Linked DNA regions of Homo sapiens. The protein of the gene in region 1 purifies or fractionates together with the protein of each later gene. This does not show direct contact. Each region holds a gene or a part of one and is shown in the gene's direction. Other genes may lie near its edges.

Region 1 (5,337 bases):
TGGATTTGCGAGTCCAGCTTCTGGCCATTTTGCCAGCTGCGTGATTTAAGCGAGGGGCTTAACCTTTGTGATCCTCAGTTTCTCTGTTTTAAATGGGGTTGGAGCCGGGTGTCGGGTGTGGTCGAGTGCGTCTGTAGTCTCAGCTACTCAGGAGGCTGAGGTGGGAGGATTGCTTGAGCCCAGGAGTCGGAGGCTGGAGTGCTTTGTGATTGTGCCACTATACTCCGGCCTGGGTGACAGAGCAGGACTTCGTCTCTCAAAAAAAAAATTTTTTTTTTAAGTGGGGTTGTGGCCCGGTACGGTGGCTCACGCCTGTAATCCCAGTACTTTGGGAGACCGAGGCAGGCGGATCACTTGAGGTGAGGAGTTGAAGACCAGCCTGGCCAACATGGTGAAACCACGTCTCTGCTAAAAATAACAAAAATTAGCCGGACATGGTGCCTGTAATTCCAGCTACTTGGGAGGCTGAGGCACGGGAATCACTTGAACCCAGGAGGCGGAGGTTGCAATGAGCCGAGATCGCGCCACTGCACTCCATCCTGAGCAACAGAACAAGACTGTCTCAAAAAAAAAAAAAAAAAAAAAGTGGGGTTGATAGTACACCTTTTGTAGAATTTTTGTGAAAATTCAGTGAGTAGTGGTTGAGGATTCATGCCTAACCCACACCATTTATCAGCTCTGACTTTGGGCAAATGTTGTATCCTCTTAATGCATTGGTTTCTTTATCTTTAGCAAGGGGATAGTGGTAGCACCCTTATAATGTTGGTGGAGAATTAAATGGCAAACTGTATGTCAGGGGGCTTGGCACCAAGCAGTCAGCACATGTCAGCCTTTGTTACTCTGTTTACTACTTTTATTGTTAATAAGATGATGTTCATAAAGGCTTAGCACCCAGTATTGAGTATTGGAGGGCTTAAAACTGCAGATGGGGATCTTAGCTCTGCACCTTTGGGATAAATAGGAATGAATGACTTAGGCTCCTGGACCTCTGTGTTTTTATTTGTGAAATGGGATGACAAGGGTCATCTCTTAGGTGCATCAGAGCACACCTGAGAAAAGCTGGCACACAGTCGGAAGTTACAAGAAGAACGTTCTAGCATTGGGTAGGTAAGGGCAGCTGGAGGCGAGGGAGTTGCAGAGCAGAATTTCGTAGATAACAGAAAGGTATGTCTTCAGTGGGATTTGCCACCCTTGGTGAACCCGCACTTGAGAGATATTACTGGCCAATTAACTTAATGGGCACAGGCGGGTGGTAGGTGCCCTTTGATGATGCAGGTCATGTGCCAGTTACCATTTATTTATTTATGAGACAGTTTTGCTCTGTTGCCCAGGCTGGAGTGCAGTGGCGTGATTTTAGCCAACTGCAGCCTCCGGTTCAAGCAGTTCTCCTGCCTCAGCCTCTCAAGTAGCTGGGATTACAGGCATGCACCACCACGCCTGGCTAATTTTGTATTTTTAGTAGAGATGGGGTTTCACCATGTAGGCCAGGCTGGTTTCGAACCCCTAACCTCAGGTGATCCACCCCCCTTGGCCTCCCAGAGTGCTGGGATTACAGGTGTGAGCCACCATGCCTGGGAGCCAGGTACTTTTTTTTTTTTTTTTTTTTTGACTTGGAGTCTCGCTCTGTTGCCTAGGCTGGAGTGCAGTGGCGTGATCTCGGCTCACTGCAAGCTCCGCCTCCCGGGTTCATGCCATTCTCCTGCCTCAGCCTCCCGAGTAGCTGGGACTACAGGTGCCCGCCACCACGCCTGGCTAATTTTTTGTATTTTTAGAGATGGGGTTTCACCGTGTTAGCCAGGATGGTCTTGATCTCCTGACCTTGTGATCTGCCCACTTTGGCCTTCCAAAGTGCTGGGATTACAGACGTGAGCCACCGCACCCGACCTTTTTTTTTTTTTTTTGAGATGGAGTATCGCTCTGTTGCCCAGGCTGGAGTGCAGTGGCGTGATCTAGGCTCACTGCAACTTCCACCTCCCGGGTTCAAAGGATTCTCCTGCCTCAGCCTCCTGAGTAGCTGGGATTACAGGCACGCGCTACCATGCCTGGCTAATTTTTGTATTTTTTGTAAAGACGGGGTTTCACCATGTTGGTCAGGATGGTCTCAAACTCCTGACCTTGTGATCTGTCTGCCTTGGCCTCCCAAAGTGCTGGGATTACAGGCATGAGCCACTGCACCCTACCAGCCAGTTCCTATTTAATGTGTGGTTGATGAGACCTTTAAGAGCTGCCTTGGCCCTCAGAGGGTGTGCAGTTGTGGGCTTTGGAGCCCTGTTCTGTCAGCTTATGTTGCTTTAGGCCTGGTCATCCTCACTGGCACTCATAAGCAGGGCCCTGCCATCACTCCACTCCCATCACATCCTCTGGCACTTTGTTCAATGTGAGTGATACTTGGAGCTGTGAGAAGCAATGTCTTTCCTAAATATGGAAGACAGGGTGTTTCCTAAATACTATAAAGCTAGATGTCACCTGTACCAGTGCTTTTCAAACTGTCTTTGGTGAAGGACAGATACTGTTTCCAATCTGTTTGCTTTTGATAAATATGATAGAATTACTTTTTAAAGAAAGATCTACAGTCAGGAGTTCAAGACCAGCCAGGCCAACATGGTGAAACCCTGTCTCTACTAAAAATGCAAAAACTAGCCAACATGCTGTCGTGTGCCTGTAATCCCAGGTACTCACTCAGGAGGCTTAGGCAGGAGAACCGCTTGAACGATTCTAGTCAGTTGCTGGGTTCCTTTTAGAGAGACGGGCACAGGGGGGAAAGCAGGGCTTAGAATCGCTTGAACCTGGGAAGCGGAGGTTGCAGTGAGCCCAGATCGCGCCATTGCACACCAGCCTGGGCAACAGACCACAACTTCGTCTCAGAAAAAAAAAAGACCTACAGAATAAAAGACCAAATTTGTATTAAGAGTCAGTGGACATCAAATTGTGAAATTACTGTAGAAGTTCCTGAACACTTAGTCCTGGTTTCTGTACTTATCACAGTCCAGCAACAGTTTAGATAGTACTGGTCCATGGACCATGCTTAGTTTTTGAGACAGGATTTTTTTTTTTTTTTTTTTTTTTTGAGACGGAATCTTGCTCTGTTGTGCAGGCTGGAGTGCAGTGGTGCGATCTCGGCTCACTGCAACCTCCGCCTCCTGGGTTCATGCCATTCTCCTGCCTCAGCCTCCCGAGTAGCTGGGACTACAGGCGCCCACCACCACGCCCGGCTAATTTTTTGTATTTTTAGTAGAGGTGGGGTTTCACCATGTTAGTCAGGATGGTCTCGGATCTCCTGACCTCATGATCCGCCTGCCTCGGCCTCCCAAAGTGCTGGGATTACAGGCGTGTGCACTGCACCCGGCCTTTACACCTGGCTAATTTTTAAATTTTTTGTGGAGATGGTGTTTCACTGTGTTGTCCCAGGCTGGTCTGAAACCCCTAGGCTCAAGCATTCTCCCTGTGTCATCATCCCAAAGTGCTGCGATTACAAGTGGAAGCCACTGTGCGTGGCTGCAGACCTTGCTTTGATCTGTGCCACTCCCCTCCCTCCACTGTGTCAGGGGAAGTGTGCGTGGATGTTTATTTTTGTAGGGGGTGGGGGTGGGAGGGTTAACCTGTTTATTTCCTTGGTGAGTGTCCCTTGCCATTTCCCCCAGTCCTTCCCACCCTGTCACCTCTCTTCTTGTTCCCAGGACCCTCGAGATGCCCCTCCTCCAACTCGTGCTGAAACCCGAGAGGAGCGCATGGAGAGGAAAGTATGTCATTTTTGCTTCCTGACCCCCTGTTTTACCACTGTCTCCAGATGATCCTTGACACTAGGGCACTTCTATCTGCATTCACTTCTCCACCTCCCCTTTCTCCTGACAGAGACGGGAAAAGATTGAGCGGCGACAGCAAGAAGTGGAGACAGAGCTTAAAATGTGTAAGTCTCTCATCCACCATTTGGCTCTCTCCTCTCCCAAACCCTCTGTATTCTTCCCAGGTCATACCCAGGACCCTGCTGTCTCCCTAAGGCCTGTGTTGTGGGGAACAGGGTTGTTAGTTCATTTGTTTAGCCCCTGCCACTTCACAAGCACTGTTTTTGGTTTAGGCTTTTCAGCAGCAGAACATAGGGTAAAAGTTGGCAGGAAGGGAGACCCCTGGTACCTTGGGCTCCTCCTGCATGGGAGGACAGTTAAGGGGCTCCCACAACCCAGCTGGGTGTCACAGGCTGAAGTGGTGGGTTGTGGGATAGTGGTCTGTCCTGGCTCTAACCTTAGGTCCCCAACCCTTGGGCTGAGGATGTTCCATCCCCTCCACATAGAGGAGGAATTGGAGTACAAGACAGGTGTGTTGTTGCCATTAACCAAACTCATAAGAGGGTCAGATGTCAACCTCCAGTGGCTCTTTATTCTGAAAGTGAAAACTGTACAGTCACAGGCAGCATAGCAGTGTTTCACTCAGCAGGGGACCGTGGATGTGATGGTGATCCTATAAGATTATATCATATTTTGCCAGGCACTGTGGCTCACGCTGTAATCCCAGTACTTTGGGAGGCCGAGGCAGGCGGATCATGAGGTCAGGAGTTCGAGACCAGCCTGGCCAGCGTGGTGAAATCCTGTCTCTACTAAAAGTACAAAAATTAGCTGGGCGTGGTGGCGAGCGTCTGTAATCCCAGCTACTCGGGAGACTGAGGCAGGAGAATCTCCTGAACCCAGAAGGCGGAGGTTGCAGTGAGCCGGGATCGCGTCGGCTCACTGCAACCCAGCCTGGGCAACAAGCAAAAATCTGTCTTAAAAAAAAAAAAGATTATACCGTCTATTTACTGTACCCTTTCTATGCTTTGATAACGTTTAGATGCACAAATACTTACTATTGTGTTAGGATTGCTGTAGTATTTGGTGTAGTAACACGCTTGGCCTCGGAGCAGTGGGACGCACCCTCTAGCCCAGGAGTGTTAGGTATGCTGTCTAGGCTCGTGGAAGTGCCATCTCATGTTGGCATATCGACATCATCATCAAACGACGCACTTCTCAGAACATGACTCTAGTGAGAAGACAGGTTTTCCTCCTATACCTGTGAACTTTGATGAATCCCTTTCCTCCAAATCCTGGAGTGCAGGATTTCCTCACGGTGCTTACGCAGAAGCGTGACAGAGACATCTGGCGGTGCACTCTTTGGACATTGGCTGTCGGAACGCTGTCTTGATGTCCTGCCTCAGAGGCATCTCAGACTCAGTGTCCAAACCACAGGGGTTTTCCCTCGCCACCAACCTGGTTTCCTTTGGGTGTTTTCTCTGGGACATAGACATTCAGCTGTGCCGGTCATGACCTCATTTTTTGCCATGCAGTTTGTTTCTAACACCTTTTCTAA
Region 2 (3,263 bases), on another chromosome or scaffold:
CCTCTCTCCCATCACTCCTTAGTTCCTTCTCTGAGTCCCAAGTGGCATTGATTGTGATTTTTCTTTTAATTACAAGTAGAGCTTGTTACCTATATGTAGAAGGAAAGCTAAACATTTTGATATAAAATTAGAAATAATTCACCAAAATAACTGTAGGTAAAGTAAGAAGAGCTCAGACATTCGATTCATAATAATACCATAAGGGAAACACACTACTTTGCTGTAGTTCACCAAAATAGCTGTAAAGGTCACTGTTAACTATTTACCTTTCTCTTAAGAACTTGTTTTTCCCTGTTTATTAGTACATAATTAAAAATTCTTATTCAGGCCCAGATGTGATAGCTTATGCCTGTAATCCCAGCACTTTGGGAGGCCAAGGCAGGAGGATCACTTGAAGGCAGAAATTCAAGACCAGCTTGGGCAATATAGCAAGATCTCATCTCTACAGAAAAAATTGTTTCGAAGTAGCCAGGCTTTGTGGCACATGCCTTTAGTCCTAGCTGCTCAGGAGATTGAGGCAGGAGGAGCCCAGGTGTTCAAGGTTTTGGTCAGCTATGATTGTGCCACTGCATTCCAGCCTGGGCAACAGAGGGAGACCCTGTTTCTTAAAAGACAGGAAAAGAAGAAAATTCTTACTCAATTATTTGCTTTGGTTGTTGACTAATATAAAAGTATTTGGCATGTTAGCCATAGCTTTCGTATACCTATTTGGACACCTCAATATGAGTTAGAGACTGCCTTCTTCCACACACTGTTTTAATATCTAATAGAAAGAAATATTACATAACCTGGGAGATTCAGAAACTTATGTTGAAACAAGCTTTGAATATTAATTTCGTTGAAGGTTTATATGAAACCAAAAGTACTACAATAGTAATAGAAAGCTCATCTTCTGTTTATTAATTATAGATAAATTTGAGTTGTTGGTATAGAAAGGTCTCAGTTAATGAGTTCTCTCACCAATATTAGCTGTATTGTAATATTTTCCTCCTGTGTGATTATACTAATATATTTCTTTTTATTGAAAGCTTGCAAATACAGAAGAATACATAGATGGAGCTTTGTCTGGACATCTGGGTGAAGTTTTAATAAGGTAACAAACAGCAGTAGTATATGTAAGGAGTTACTGGTGAGCATTAGGAATACCTGTTCTAAATATATTAGTGCCTCAATTTTGGAATTACTTTTTTTTAAAAAATCACTATTATAATACTTTACAGTTAGACTTCAGAAGTCTTTGAAATTGTTAAACTTGTCAAAGGTAAGTTTTCAAATGTTTTGGAACTGGCCAAAAGATTTTTCTAGTGTTGATGTTTAATTTTCTAGCTCTTAGCTATAATCTTTTGCAGTGGCAACCTTTTGCAGTGGCCTTTGTTGCGGGAACTTAGTTTTGAATTTTAGTTGGGTCTGGCTGTTTTGTTATATTGATTTTCTGTACTAGCTTCAAAGCTCCAAATTCTGGTAATTATTTCCTTTGGAAAATCATAAAGATGTCATTTTATAACAACCATATGGTGGAAAATAAGTGCCATGTGCTTTTCAACAAATCTATGTGAAACTTTTTTTTAAAATGAATATATTTAAAAAATTTTTTTAAAGACAAGAATATTATAAATATAGTATTCAGTATTTTCATAATAAAAATATAGTAATTCATATCATACATGGTTTCTGGTTGGAACAACAAAATCGACTTTTTCTATTTACAGGTGTAATAATGTCCTTTATATCAGAGGTGTGGAAGAAGAGGAAGAAGATGGGGAAATGAGAGAATAGCATCTTTTGTGGGGGATTTTTTTTATATATATTTCTAGACAATAAAGATTTGTTTGTTTTTCAACTTGACTTGTGAACTATTTGTATTCAGATATTTACAAGCAAAGCTGAAATGATGAACCAATTGGGAAAGATTACTCACTGAACTAATGCTTTAAAAGCCACTGAATTTCATTTAAGTTGCTTTTCTTTTGTAAGCCCAATATTCTTTTTTTTCCCATAAAGGATAATTATTTATATGCTTTAGATATTTTTATGAAGGTGAATTTCAGACCTTTTCTTGTAAAATTATCTATTAGCTGAGACCTTTTAAATGCAACTTTTTCTTTTAAAGTTATTTTTGAGCTACTTTTAACGTATAAAATTAAACATTTTCTTGGTATTAATAATATACTGTCTTATTTTACTTAGTAGTCAATAAATTACATGTTAATTCTGTGTCAATATAAGCTAAATGCACATATTGCAGCTAAAATTGAAGCATCTTCTAAAAATTAAAATGATTGTACAGACAGGGCACAACAGAAATTGGGAACTGACATTCAGGCTGAAGGCATACGGTTTGTTCACTGAAGAGAAAAAAGTTCTCTGAACAAAATGTAATGTCAAATAAAAACCAGTCTCCCCATTATGTTCTGAGACATAACCTCGAGGTTGAGTTTTAAGCCCCTCAAAACCCTTCAGGTATTTTAGGGTTGTACATTGTTAAAATGTATAGTCCATAGTAATAACAGTATGCTATGAACTTCCCTACAGATGGGTTGAGAAAATACATCATTTACATTCTCATGTTGTAAGAGAATGGCCATTATTACACTTCAGTGTTCATTTACCATAGTTTTATCAGTAAACTATCTTTGTGTATCCCCAAGTGGGACAACTCAAAGTATAGAAGAAAGTGTTTAGCTATATGGAATAATACTTATGATATGAATACTTAAAGACTTAAAATTTACAAAATACACCTAAGACATTCTGGTAATAAAATGTCTTACTGCTTTTATTCAAGTAAAAAAATATTCTTCCTCTTGTGATTTTGTTTTTGTTTCATTGACTAAAGGTAGCTGCTGTTTGTTACCAGATGGAGGTTTTGAATGAAAGACAAGTCGTCTTCCCAACTGAAACAAAAGAAAAACAAAATACTTAATATTTTTTGAGCATAGCCATTTTCTATTGAAATTTGTGAAATACCAATATTAACTTGATTTTTACAAGGAATAATATGGTTTGTAACATTAACTAATCACAGTTAAAAGGGACTTATAACCTAACGGATGTCTAACATGCTAGGCAAAGTTGAGTAGCAAACTGGACACCAATAACTATGCAGAAGGAACAGCAGTTAGGTTTTATTGGGAAGTGGGAAAACTTAGGTAAAGTCATCAAATAGTATATGGTTCAAATGTGGTCAGCCTAGAAAAGCACCATGTTGAAGGCCACCATTTTATTTCTCAGTAAGTGCCATAGCCAGTTTTTCGTCCATGGTT

Evidence for each region. The genes of interacting proteins can lie anywhere in the genome.
Region 2: the proteins of SNRNP70 (region 1) and SNRPF purify together in Homo sapiens (affinity purification with mass spectrometry; 6 studies listed by BioGRID and IntAct, with this or other methods). This does not show direct contact.

The regions. Positions count from the first base shown.
Region 1 is NC_000019.10:49,086,614-49,091,950, forward strand, and holds part of SNRNP70 (U1 small nuclear ribonucleoprotein 70 kDa), read left to right. Parts: intron 1-3,677; coding exon 3,678-3,740; intron 3,741-3,852; coding exon 3,853-3,907; intron 3,908-5,337. UniProt on the Homo sapiens protein: Component of the spliceosomal U1 snRNP, which is essential for recognition of the pre-mRNA 5' splice-site and the subsequent assembly of the spliceosome. SNRNP70 binds to the loop I region of U1-snRNA.
Region 2 is NC_000012.12:95,864,296-95,867,558, forward strand, and holds the end of SNRPF (small nuclear ribonucleoprotein F), read left to right. Parts: intron 1-1,028; coding exon 1,029-1,093; intron 1,094-1,709; coding exon 1,710-1,776; 3' UTR 1,777-1,845; downstream 1,846-3,263. Other genes in the region: CCDC38 (coiled-coil domain-containing protein 38), read right to left, coding at 2,781-2,894. UniProt on the Homo sapiens protein: Plays a role in pre-mRNA splicing as a core component of the spliceosomal U1, U2, U4 and U5 small nuclear ribonucleoproteins (snRNPs), the building blocks of the spliceosome.